Homo sapiens: one gene and its partner. The protein of the gene in region 1 interacts with the protein of each later gene in a biochemical or structural test. Each region holds a gene or a part of one and is shown on either strand. Other genes may lie near its edges.

Region 1 (4,765 bases):
GTGATGTTAAGCCTAGGGCTGCTGTCTGCCCTACCCCTCAACACATACACTGCACACACACACAAACACACACACACACACAGCCATCCCAACAGTATCAGTCATTTCTGTCCTCTTCCTGATAGCATCTGTGGTAGGCAGAATAATTCCCCTTCTCCAAAGATGTCCATGTTCTAATCCTGTGCATTGTTCTTATCTTACATGGGAAGAAACTTGGTGATTAAGATTTTGAGATGGGATGATTATCCTTGGTTATCTAGTTAGGCCCAGTGTAATCCCAAGGGTTCTTGAGGAGACAAGGAGGTCAAATGTGGAGGTAGGAGTTGTGACAATGGGAGCAAGAGATTGGAGTGATGTGTGGAAGGAGGAACAAGCCCTACTGACATCTGACTGCTGACCTCCGAACTGTAATAGAATAAATGCATTACCACTAAATTCGTGCTAATAACAGTAATAGGAAATTCAAATACCATCCTTCTGATTTGGGGAACAAAGGTGACTAACACATATTTTATTATAAATATTTATTTTAAAAAATTTCTTGGCAGTTAAAAGGAAGTGGCATAATGAGCAGGACAGGACAGTTACCGGCTCCCCCTCAGATGCCTCTGGCTGGCTTCTCACATTCTCCAAGATCCAGCCTCTAGGCTCCAGTCTCGGCTACCTCTGCTGGGCGGTAGCTCACACCCCCTTTGGTTCCCCTTCTGTGTGTACACAACAGGAAAGGCTAATCAGAAAACTGGCCCAGGAGCAGCTCATTTGCATGCGCTTTGCATGAAGTGACTCCACAAGGGTGGGGGAAGCTTGTGCCTGAAGAAAGGGTCAGTGTAATACCTGTGCTGCCTTCTCATCTGCACAAGGAACGCGACGCTGGTGACAGCAAAAAGGAGGCCAAAAACCAGGGCTAGGATGTCACCTGCGATGGAGAGCAGAGAGGGCTGCTTTGGGAAGGAAGAGGGGTCTGCAGAGTTCCTCAACACCTGCCTCAGTGCACTCCACCACCCCTGCCCCGAGTTCTCAGGCAGCCCCTAGTGCCTCAGTCTCCAGAAGAGGCCAGCCAAGGGATGAGGGTGGATACACGAGAAGGGGTAAGATAAGCACCGTTTTTGCTTCCTAAAAGCCAAGTAAAAGGGCCGTTTGGGGCCAGGCACAGTGGCTCATGCCTACAGTCCCAGTGCTTTGAGAAGCTAAGGTGAAAGGATTGCCTGAGCCTAGGAGTTCGAGGCTGCAGTGAGCTATGATCGTGCCACAACACCCCAGCCTGGGCAACAGAGTGAGACCCTATCTTTAAAAAAAGGGGGGGGATTGTTTTGCGAGAGGGATGCTGGGAGATTTCTCAAGCTTCATTCTAATCAATTAGCCTCTGGGGACAATGGGGGAATCCCCACCATGATCTGCCTCTCTAATATTGGGGTTGGGGTCTGTTCTGCAGAAAAGGAGAGGGAGCAGAGGCGGTCCTGAGCAGCCCTGGGGCTGAATGGTGCTGAGGAGTCTCCTGGCATCAGGACCAAGAGGAGGGGCAGACTCACCAGCAGCCAGGCAGGAATTCAGCTGGACTGGAGAGAAAAAGGAGATGTGAGAGGCGGGCTGTGACCACCAATGACAGACACTGGCACACACATGGGAGGATAAGGGACTACTGGCTGGGGGGAAACCAGACAAAGCTGTACCTGGCTCAGCAGCCCGAGGACTGCTGTCCACTCCAGCAGGGAAGGAGGCCTCAATCACTCGCCCATTCAAAGGCTGCGTCGCTCGGAAGTTCAGCTGTAGCCGAGAGTCACCAGGTCCCCACAGGGTGTCAGAGAGGGTGTGGAGCTAGGGAGGTCAGTGGACAGTGTGGGTGGGTTCATGGCATGACAGGAAACAAGGGTCCCAGGCCAGCTCACAACCAGCACCTCAGGGCTCCACCCTCCAGCTCCTGTATTCCCCATCCAGCCTCTTGATTTCTTTTATAAATAAATAAATGTATCCTAAAGATGGTAGGCAGTGGTGGGATCATAGCTCACTGCAGTCTCAAACTCCTGGAATCAAGCGATCTTCCCACCTCAGCCTCCTTGAGTAGCTGGGACTAGGCGCATACCACCATGCCCGGCTATTTTTGGTTTTGTTGGGGTTTTTTTGGTAGAGATGGGGTCACACTATGTTGCCCCGCCTTGTCTTGAACTCCTGGGCTCAAACCATTCTCCCACCTCAGCCTCCCAACGTGGTGGGATTATAGGCGTAAGCCACAGAGCCCAGCCTTGATTTCTTTCTTCTCCTGTTTCTCATCTCATCTTACATCCTCTTTCCCCCGCACCCACTGTGTCCACACACACCCCAGGCCCACCTGCTTAGCACTCAGCATCACTGTCTGGTTAAACACAGTCCAGATGACACCCTGGGCACAGGGCGGTGTAGTCAGAGACCCCTCATATTGGAAGTAGCGGCTGAAGTCAGAGGGCAGGAGTGCAGATATGTCCAGTCCTGGGACCTGAGTCTCTGAGCCTGTGAAGAGGATCTATGTTGGGGTCTCATCTACATTGCACCCCCTTAAAGCTTCAGGGTATAGGGATACAGTTTCACCTCCCAGAAGCCAAGGTAACTCAACTCTGAGACCACTTCTTCGCTAAGTGCAGGCCCTTCCCATAAGACGTAACTCAAAAAAAAGTACAGGGCTTTGGAGCAACTGGAAGAGGCCTGAGGAAGCAAGAGAGGAAGAAAGAAAGGAAGGAGAGAAGGGAAGGTGGGAGGGAAGGGAGGAAGGAAGAGAAGGAAAGAAGAAAGACCGTCTGAGTCTACACTCTTAACTCTGTGTACCATCATAAAGTGCTGGGCCACAAGTTTAAGCCCAGAGCAAATTAAAAAGAAAAAATGAATCCCAGCACTTTGGGAGGCCGAGGCTGGTGGATCACAAGGTCAGGAGTTTGAGAGCAGCCTGGCCAATATGGTGAAACCCTGTCTCTACTAAAGATGTAAAAAAAAAAAAAAAGAAAAGAAAAGAAAAAATGATCTGAATAACTTGTAAATAAATATGAATATTGATAACTATACAAAACAGACACAAGAAATGCAAAGGCAGAGTTCTACCTAGTCTAGCAGAAACCTAAAAGGTCTAGTAGAGTAAGTGAGATTTAAAATGACCCAAGAGTGACTAAGAAGAGAACGATTTCCAACAAAAGTATTTACAAAGTTAAAATATTTGATGCTTATTAAAGATAAACAGTTCTCAGAAAAAGTTTAGCTCTCCAGACTTGACCTTGACAATTCCAAACACCATTTTTTGGTCTTGTTTTTTTTGTCTCATTTTGGTTTTTGCTTGGTTTTCTTTTTTTTTTTTTTTTTTGAGACAAGAGTCTCGCTCTGTTGCCCAGGCTGGAGTGCAGTGGCACGATCTCGGCTCACTGCAACTTCTGCCTCCCGGGTTCATGCCATTCTCCTGCCTCAGCCTCCCGAGTAGCTGGGATTACAGGCACCCGCCACCACGCCTGGCTATTTTTTCGTATTTTTAGTAGAGATGGGGTTTCACCATGTTGGCCAGGATGGTCTTGATCTCTTGACCTCGTGATCCACCTGCCTTGGCCTCCCAAAGTGCTGGGATTACAGGCGTGAGCCACCGTGCCCGGCGGTTTTTGCTTGGTTTTCAATCTGTAGGCAGCCGTTTGCGGGTAACTGTGTCTGTCAGCTTCATGGTTATTATCAAGATGAGCGCTGGCTCATGCTTCAATCCCTCCTGCACTGGAGGGAGCCCATCTCCAGCCTCAGACCTGAAGCTCCAAAGGGTGATTCTTTATGAACTAGGCCACAGAGATTAGTGGCCAGACCAACAAACTGACCTTCCTCAGCGATTTCTTCCAAGCGAGACAGCAACTGCTCATAGGCACTGTTTTCTTCCGGGCCCTCCTGGGGGATGACATTGTAAGACAGATGAGTGCATGTATCCAGGGCCATGGCTGAAGGCCGGAACATGAAGGGGGGTTCCCATAGACCTCTCCCATTCCTCAGCTCTGAGAATGCTGAGGGAACATAAAATTGTAATGGTTGTTGCTTTTTGTTGTTGCTGTTGTTTTTTTTTTTAGAGACAGTGTCTCCCTCTTAAAATCCTATGTATTATTTCAAACTCTATGTACTCTTGCTGTGCGAACCAACAAGCTTGGTGGACTGGTTTTCAATGACAAGCTGGAGAGAGAGGGAGAGAGCCCACTTTACTTAGGATACTAGGCTCTCAGTGACCCGTGCCCTTCTGACGTTTGCAGTCTCACTCACTGCTGCCTCCGTACATACTCCCCACAGGAAACCATATATACACCTTTGTGTTGGTGTCACCTCTGCATTCACCTTCATGATTCTGTGTTTGGCTTTTCAGGTGAGGTCCTGACATGCCACTTCTTTTATTTATTATTCTTTTTTCTTATTTTGCTTATGAACCTAATGTTAAGAACATTATGAACCTAAGAGTATGAACATATTGACATGCTATGATGGAGGCATTTCTCTGAACTTTGTGCTGTGTGGCTGGCATTAAAGAATCAGTGAGTGTGGCTGGGCACGGTGGCTCACACTTGTAATCAGCACTTTGGTAGGCTGAGTCAGGCGGATCACTTGAGGCCAGGAGTTTGAGACCAGCCTGACCAACATGGTGAAACCCTGTCTACTAAAAATACAAAAAAAAATTAGCTGGGCATGGTGGCACACACCTGTAACCCCAGCTACTCAGGAAGCTGAGGCAGGAGAATCCCTTGAACCCGGGAGGCGGAAGTTGCAGTGACCCAAGATCACACCACTGCAC
Region 2 (7,033 bases), on another chromosome or scaffold:
AAGCTGTCCATGGCATGTCCATGTCTCTTCAGCATTTACTCTTTTAGGTATGGTGCTAAGGGCACAGATCTCAATACATTTTATAAAACACTACTCAAGAGCATATGGAAATTATCACACCCAAGAGTTGACTGTTAGGTTGGATCTCAAAGGATGAACAGGGGTTTGCATGGGAAAAATTGGTTTGGAATTTAAATTACTTTTTTTTTTTTTTTTGGTGGTGGGGAAGGACAGAGCACCTCAGAGTGAAGGACTAAGGAAACAGTTCAGTATGTGGAGCACAGAAACCTAATAGGAAGATGATGGGAATATAGGCTGAGGTCAAAATGGGAATGGCGTTATATACTCATACACTGTGTAATAAGAACCTACTACATATCAGGTACTGTACTAGTTTTTGCTGATATAAGGGCTAACCAAAGCACACACAATTCTTGCTGTCTTGGAGCTTACATTGCAGTCTAGTAAAAGGCATATTAACTTTTTAAATTGCATGTATGAGTAAGCACCTGTAGAACTAAGAACTAAGATAAATGCTATGAAGGAAAGTGTTATCAAGAAAACACTATGGGGCCAGGTGCCAGTGGCTCACGCCTGTAATCCCAGCACTTTGGGAGGCCAAGGCAGGCAGATCTCCTGAGGTCAGGAGTTCGACACCAGCCTGGCCAACATGGTGAAACCCTGTCTCTACTAAAATTACAAAAATTAGCTGGGTGTGGTGGTGTACACCTGTAATCTCACCTACTTGGGAGGCTAAGGCAGGAGAATCGCTTGAACCTGGGACACAGAGGTTGCAGTGAGCCGAGATTGAGCCACTGCACTACAGCCTAGGTGACAGAGTGAGATTCATCCCAAAACAAGAAAGCACTATCATATAAACAAAGTAACATGACCTAGACTGAACTGCGGGTTGTGTCAGGAAAGACTGATCTGAAGAGTAGGAGCTGGGCATGGTGGCTCACACCTGTAATCCCAGCACTTTGGGAGACCTAGGCAGGTGGAGGTCAGGAGTTCCAAACCAGCCTGGACAACATGGTGAAACCCCGTCTCTACCAAAAATACAAAATTAGCCAGGCATGGTAGTACATGCCTGTAATCCCACCTATTTGGGAGGCTGAGGCAGGGGAAATGCTTGAACCTGGGCGGCAGTCGCTTGAAGCCGGGCAGTGGAGGTTGCAGTGAGTCAAGATCACGTCACTGCACCCCAGCCTGAGCAAAAGAGTGACACTCTGTCTCAAAAATAAATAAAGAGTAGGCAAAATTACGGTGAAGCAGGAGGAAGTTAGTGCCAGGTAAGCAAGGGCCAGGAATTTAAAGGATTTGTAGACCATATCAGGATTTTAGCCTTTATTCTAAGAGAGTGGGAAGCTACTGAAAAACAACTGGGTTACAGATGGGGAATAAATGCAATGATCAGATTTACATTTCAGAAACATTACTCCAGCTATACTGTGGACCATACTTTGGAGAGAACAAATCTTCATTTGGCCATACTGAATGGAGACTAGTTAGGAGAATGACTAAGTTAGAAATTATGATGGCCTGACTTAGGTTATGGCAATCAATGAAGATGGAAAAAAAAATGACATACAGTTGATTCTCATTATTCCCAGGTTCCATATTTGCAAATTCACCTACTCATTAACATTTATTTGTAAAGCAAAATTAATGCTTCCTATTTCACAGTCATTTGGATGAGTGTCGAGTGGTGAAAATTTTGAGTAATCCAACACATACATTCCCAGCTGTGGTGGCACAAAGCAACACTCTGCCTTCTAGCTCCAGCTCTCATGTTGTAAACAAGCATCTTCTTCTTGGCCTATTTCAGCCCATGTTTTTCACATGTTTGTGCTTTTTCTTGGCGCTCTTGTTGTTTAATATGGCCTCCAAGCACAGTGCTGAAATGCTGTCTAGCATTCCTAAGTGCAAGAAGGCTATAATGTGCCTTCTGAAAAAAACATATGTGTTAGATAAGCTTCTTTATTGGCTGTGAATTCAATGTTAATAAATCAGCAATATATATTAAGACAACTTTAAAAGAAACACTCATAAAACGAGGTTACAAACTCATCAACTGATTAAAATAATGTGACTCAGGACTCAGAGAAACTAATTCCATAATTCCCTCAGAAGCAATGGTTCAGTACTTGCTAACTCAGTGTTTGTGATAATGTTACAAAACATACTACAAATAATGAGAACTAGTTGGTTTGAATTTTACAAACTAAAATTAATAGTTCTTCAAAATGGATTAGATATAGGGATGGTAAGGATGAGCTAGCAGGAAAGAAGTAAAAGGAAAACCACAAGACTGGGTAATACAGTCAGCTAACATATCCTTGTCCAGAGTCTTAATGTTACCCTGCAGCCATTGTCACATCAGATGAATAAACTGCTCATCTTACAACAGAAGAAAGGATTAACTTTGGTTAAACTGCAAACTACATGGAATGGATATTCCTCTGATCTTAACAAAATCTCCGCCATAGTGAAGATGTGAAAATCAAAAATTAATGTCCTGCAGCCCAACTTTGTCTACCCTTGGCCAAAAGTGGGCACTGATAAAGAAAAAAACAGCAGCCTCCACATTCCAGAAACTTATCTGAGACTCATAACTAAACCTCAGTGTTATTACTAACCGATCTGATGCTTAACAGCTAAGGCATATTGTTTTCTTGGACATAAACAATCTCACAGAACATCCATTTCGGACAAGGTCCCTGAGCAATACAAAATACCAAACATTCCCCTCTCCAGTTAAATGAGTGACTGATACTTCTTTACCAACTACAGCTTTCCCCCTGCTTAGGTCAGCCCTCCCTGTAAAATTTATTAAGAGGCCGAATCATAGAATTGACCTCACTTTCTGACAACACTCAACCTAAAGCAAGGCTTCACTTCCTTAGACTCTTTCCCAAATTACCCAAATGAATAGGTTCCTTCTAACATCCTCTGATACCCTAAAGTGTGTGTTTTCCCTGACTATTACGGACAAAAACCCAACTCGTGTCAGGATGCCCATATAAGAGAATTCCAAGAAGGAAAAAGTGATTTAAAAAAATATACCAAATAGATGAGCAAAGAAAATATCCACTAAATGAGTTATATTAGGAGACTAGGGAGACTGTTGGGGATTTTAGGAGAGCAGTCTCTACGAATTCAGATGGGCAACAGCTAAGAAATCTGGAGTTTATCTTGTAGTCAATGGAAATTAGTGAGGGAGGCAATGATCAGCTGCAGTATATAGGAAGAAAATTCTAATGGCCAGAGGGAACAAACTGGGTTAGGAAGAGGCCTGAGACAGCAAGATTAATTTGAGAAATACTCATCAGGAGACTAAAGAAGACAGACGGGAGAAGGGTGATATCAAAGATTTTCTGCTTGTGACTTTCAGTGGATGGTAATTTAACAGGCCAAAATAAGGATAAAGAAGGCATTAAGACGGGAAAAGAAAAAGATAAATGTTTACGTTTCAGACTTCAATGGAATTCCCAGGTTGATATGACCTGTAGGCAGTGCCATCTCATTCCTTTATTCAACAAGTATTTTGAGGGCACCAACATAAGGAACTCTACTCTGCAAACACAGTGATGAGTAACACAGTCTGGAACTTACACTAGGTATGCACTAGATCGATAGATACCTTGCACTCACAATAACTCTCACCACAGCCTCTCCCATCATACATAAACACAATTTTACTCTTGCTTCCAACCAGAAATCTAGTTGATATGGTCAATTTTATCACTCAGTACACCAATTACCTTTCAGAGATCCTGCACATACACCACTGCTATTTCACTTTTCCTCAGTTATTCCTTAGAGTGCTATGAATTAAGTTGGAACAGTTTTTTTTTTTTTCTTTTTGAGACAGTCTCCCTCTGTCACCCAGGCCACAGTGCAGTGGTGCAATCTCTGCTCACGCAACCTCTGCCTCGCAGGTTCAAGCAATTCTGCTGCCTCAGCCTCGCGAGTAGCTGGGATTACAGGTATGCACCACCATGCCCGGCTAATTTTTGTATTTTTAGTAGAGATGGGGTTTCACCATGTTGTCCAGGCTGGTCATGAACTCCTGACCTCAGATGATCTGCCTGCCTTGGCCTCCCAAAGTGCTGGAATTACAGTCGTGAGCCACCACACAAGACCTAAATTGGAATAGTCTTAATATTGTTCATGTAAAGAAATCTAATTTTTACTAATCTTTCTTCCCAGTTTTCTCTGTGAGGTCCCTTCCTCCTCTTTCTCAGTGGTGAGCCCTAATCACTGCTGATAACCAGTTAGCATAGTATATATCAAGAAAAAAACATCAAAGTAAAATCAAGAAAGTTACTGCCATCAACCTTCTAAGTATTTTTAAAAGTGCCCAGAAATCACCTTCTTAATCTCTGCAAATCTATTTCTTCTGATTAAACCTGCTTTTCTCCAAGCACAAGTACTTAAGATAATTTCACTATTTCCTGTTATGTTATTGTAAATGCCCACCCACACTGTACTTTCAGCTATATGATAGGATCTCTAAGGTTCCTTCCAGCTCTGAAAACCTGATTCCTTAAAAGGCTTGAGTTTTTTTTACAAGCATTTTAAACAGTTTCCAAAAGAAAATACCGTCCAATATCCAAAACACTTAAATAAATAAATCTGGTAATATAAACCTTTATCAAATTGGGAAAAACTTGCATTCCAAAATGGGGTGAATTATTTTAAGAAGATTCTATCAAGTGGTATTTAAACAAACAGTTTAGTTGATTTTACAATGGTTTTCTGGAGGTTCCTAAAATCCCTATATAATGGAAATAAAACCCAATTCTACTTAAACAAGCACCTACTGAGAACCCACATGGCCCAGAGCCAGACAAAGAGAACGATTCCGTTTAGTAAGACAAGGTCCCTATTCTTAAGGAGTTCTGTGGACAATATCCATCCAGCTACAGTCAGGTTATCTATTCCCTCTTCCCCAGTGAAGTTTTGTATCGTGTGCTTTACATTTTCACTTTCTATCTAGAGTTTCATTTTCAACACCTGGCTCAAATCTCTCCATGGACATGAATCTTCTTGCTTTAATATTCTCTGCCACTTAATGCCTGACAATTACATATTGCCCTGGGTTATTCATCTTTTTACAATAGTGTCTTAACTATTCAACAAGCATGTAGATTTAGGGAAAGTAAGCACCAGATCTTAAACTTTTTGTAGTCCTCAGGAATTATTAAAAGCATCTTCTAGCATGAAATATTCTATAAGCCTAATTTTAGAGGGAAATGAAATTTAAGGCCTGAATCTTAACATCCACTAGTCTAAACCCTGGAGAAGTGACATAGCTGGGTGGTCAAGAGTTCATGTTCTGGGGGTAAAGAGATCCTATAAGTCCCAGACCTACTATCTAACTGACCTTAAACAAGTACTTAATCTCTCCAAATCTCAGTTTCTTCAACTGTAAACGAGATTATTATTATCCTCTTTTACTAAAGTTGTAAGGATAAACAAAAATCAAGCTCACAGTAAGCATTAATATTAACTATTATATATAGAAAGATAATGATATTTTCTTTAGCTCTTGATTCCTTGGAATATTTTAAATCAACTGGTGGTTGAAGAATATGAAAATAAAAGAAGTGGCTGGGCACAGTGGCTCAAGCCTGTAATCCCAGCACTTTGGGAGGCCAAGGTGGGCAGATTGCCGGAAATCAAGAGTTTGAGACCAGCCTGGGAAACATGGTGATACCCATCTCTATAAAAAAAATTAGCTGAGTGTGGTGGTGCGCACCTGTAGTCCCAGCTACTCTGGGGGCTGAGGTGGGAAGAAAATCGCTTGAGCCCAGGAGGTTGAAGCTGCAGTGAGTTGAGGTGGTGCCACTGCACTCCAGCGTGGGTGACAGAGCGAGACCCTATCTCTAAAAAAAAAAAAAAAAAAGAAAAGAACTTAGTTACCTCAACCTACCAAATATTCAATATTAATATTCACAAATGGAGTGTCACATGGTTCATCCACATTAAAGCTTTCACTCTGGTATCAACCGAATCCCCTATCTATTGGCTACATTATAAGGTTTACTCTTTATTCCTTTATGGAACATGCATCCCTAGAGGTCCTTAAAATAACTATATACACTGGTACAAATGTTTTCTGGCAAAAAGTCTCAGTACACTCCAGAAGTGTTTCTTTTAGGGAGGAAGTGATGAGAAGCACTGTTCTAAGGTACTGTCCCAAGGAATGTTTCTTCATTTTTCTTCTGAAGGTTTTATTTGAATTGGCATTCATTAATAACTTTTCACTAAACCGAGGCTAGTAAGTAACAGGCACTATCCTAGTAATTAAGACACACAAATGCCTCCTCCTTTTTTTAATAAAAGAGCTCCTAGTCTCCTTTTTTTAAAACAAACAAACAAAAAACCCTGCATGGGTGGATGCGGTGCTGGCCTGTAATCCCAGCACTCTGGGAGGCCCAGGCGGGTGGATCACGAGGTTAGAAGATCGAGACCATGCTGGCGAACATGGTGAAACCCCGTCTTGACTAAAATACAAAAAATTAGCCAGGCGTGGTGGTGTGTGCCTGTAATCCCAGCTACTTGGGAGGCTGAGGCAAGGGAGTTGCTTGAACCTGGGAGGCGGAGGTTGAAGTGAGCTGAGATGGCGCCCCTGCACTACAGCCTGGCGACAGAAAAGACTCCATCTCAAAAAAACAAACAAAAAAAACCAAAACAACAACAACAACAAAAACCCTGCATATGGCAGAGTTCCTAATCTCAGCATTTCTCATCCTAATGCTTCCCCATTTCTCCTAAGTCTTAATATCTCATTTTTAAATAATGCACAATACTAAAACACAAAAGAAATATTACAATTTTTCAATAAATTGAGCCTTAATAGTCCTACAAAAAGATTCTTTTAAAATGCAGAAATTTCCAAATTTTTAAGCCTGCATTCATTTCTTTACCTTCTCTGTATTAATGAACTATGTAATTATATAAATAGACCTGAAATTTTATGCCTATAACAACCTTTTGTAATTAGTCATGTCCATGCCTCTCAGAA

Evidence for each region. Proteins that work in one complex are often made in the same cells at the same time.
Region 2: the proteins of CA9 (region 1) and CAND1 interact in a test that uses a peptide from one of them, tested with the Homo sapiens proteins (one study listed by BioGRID).

What each region holds. Positions count from the first base shown.
Region 1 is NC_000009.12:35,676,904-35,681,668, reverse strand, and holds the end of CA9 (carbonic anhydrase 9 precursor), read right to left. Parts: intron 3,993-4,765; coding exon of another isoform or gene 3,978-3,992; exon of another isoform or gene 3,880-3,977; coding exon 3,813-3,879; intron 2,485-3,812; coding exon 2,327-2,484; intron 1,816-2,326; coding exon 1,671-1,815; intron 1,557-1,670; coding exon 1,530-1,556; intron 917-1,529; coding exon 835-916; intron 705-834; coding exon 644-704; 3' UTR 510-643; downstream 1-509. UniProt on the Homo sapiens protein: Catalyzes the interconversion between carbon dioxide and water and the dissociated ions of carbonic acid (i.e. bicarbonate and hydrogen ions).
Region 2 is NC_000012.12:67,272,358-67,279,390, reverse strand, and holds part of CAND1 (cullin-associated NEDD8-dissociated protein 1), read right to left. Parts: intron 5,892-7,033; exon of another isoform or gene 5,765-5,891; intron 1-5,764. UniProt on the Homo sapiens protein: Key assembly factor of SCF (SKP1-CUL1-F-box protein) E3 ubiquitin ligase complexes that promotes the exchange of the substrate-recognition F-box subunit in SCF complexes, thereby playing a key role in the cellular repertoire of SCF complexes.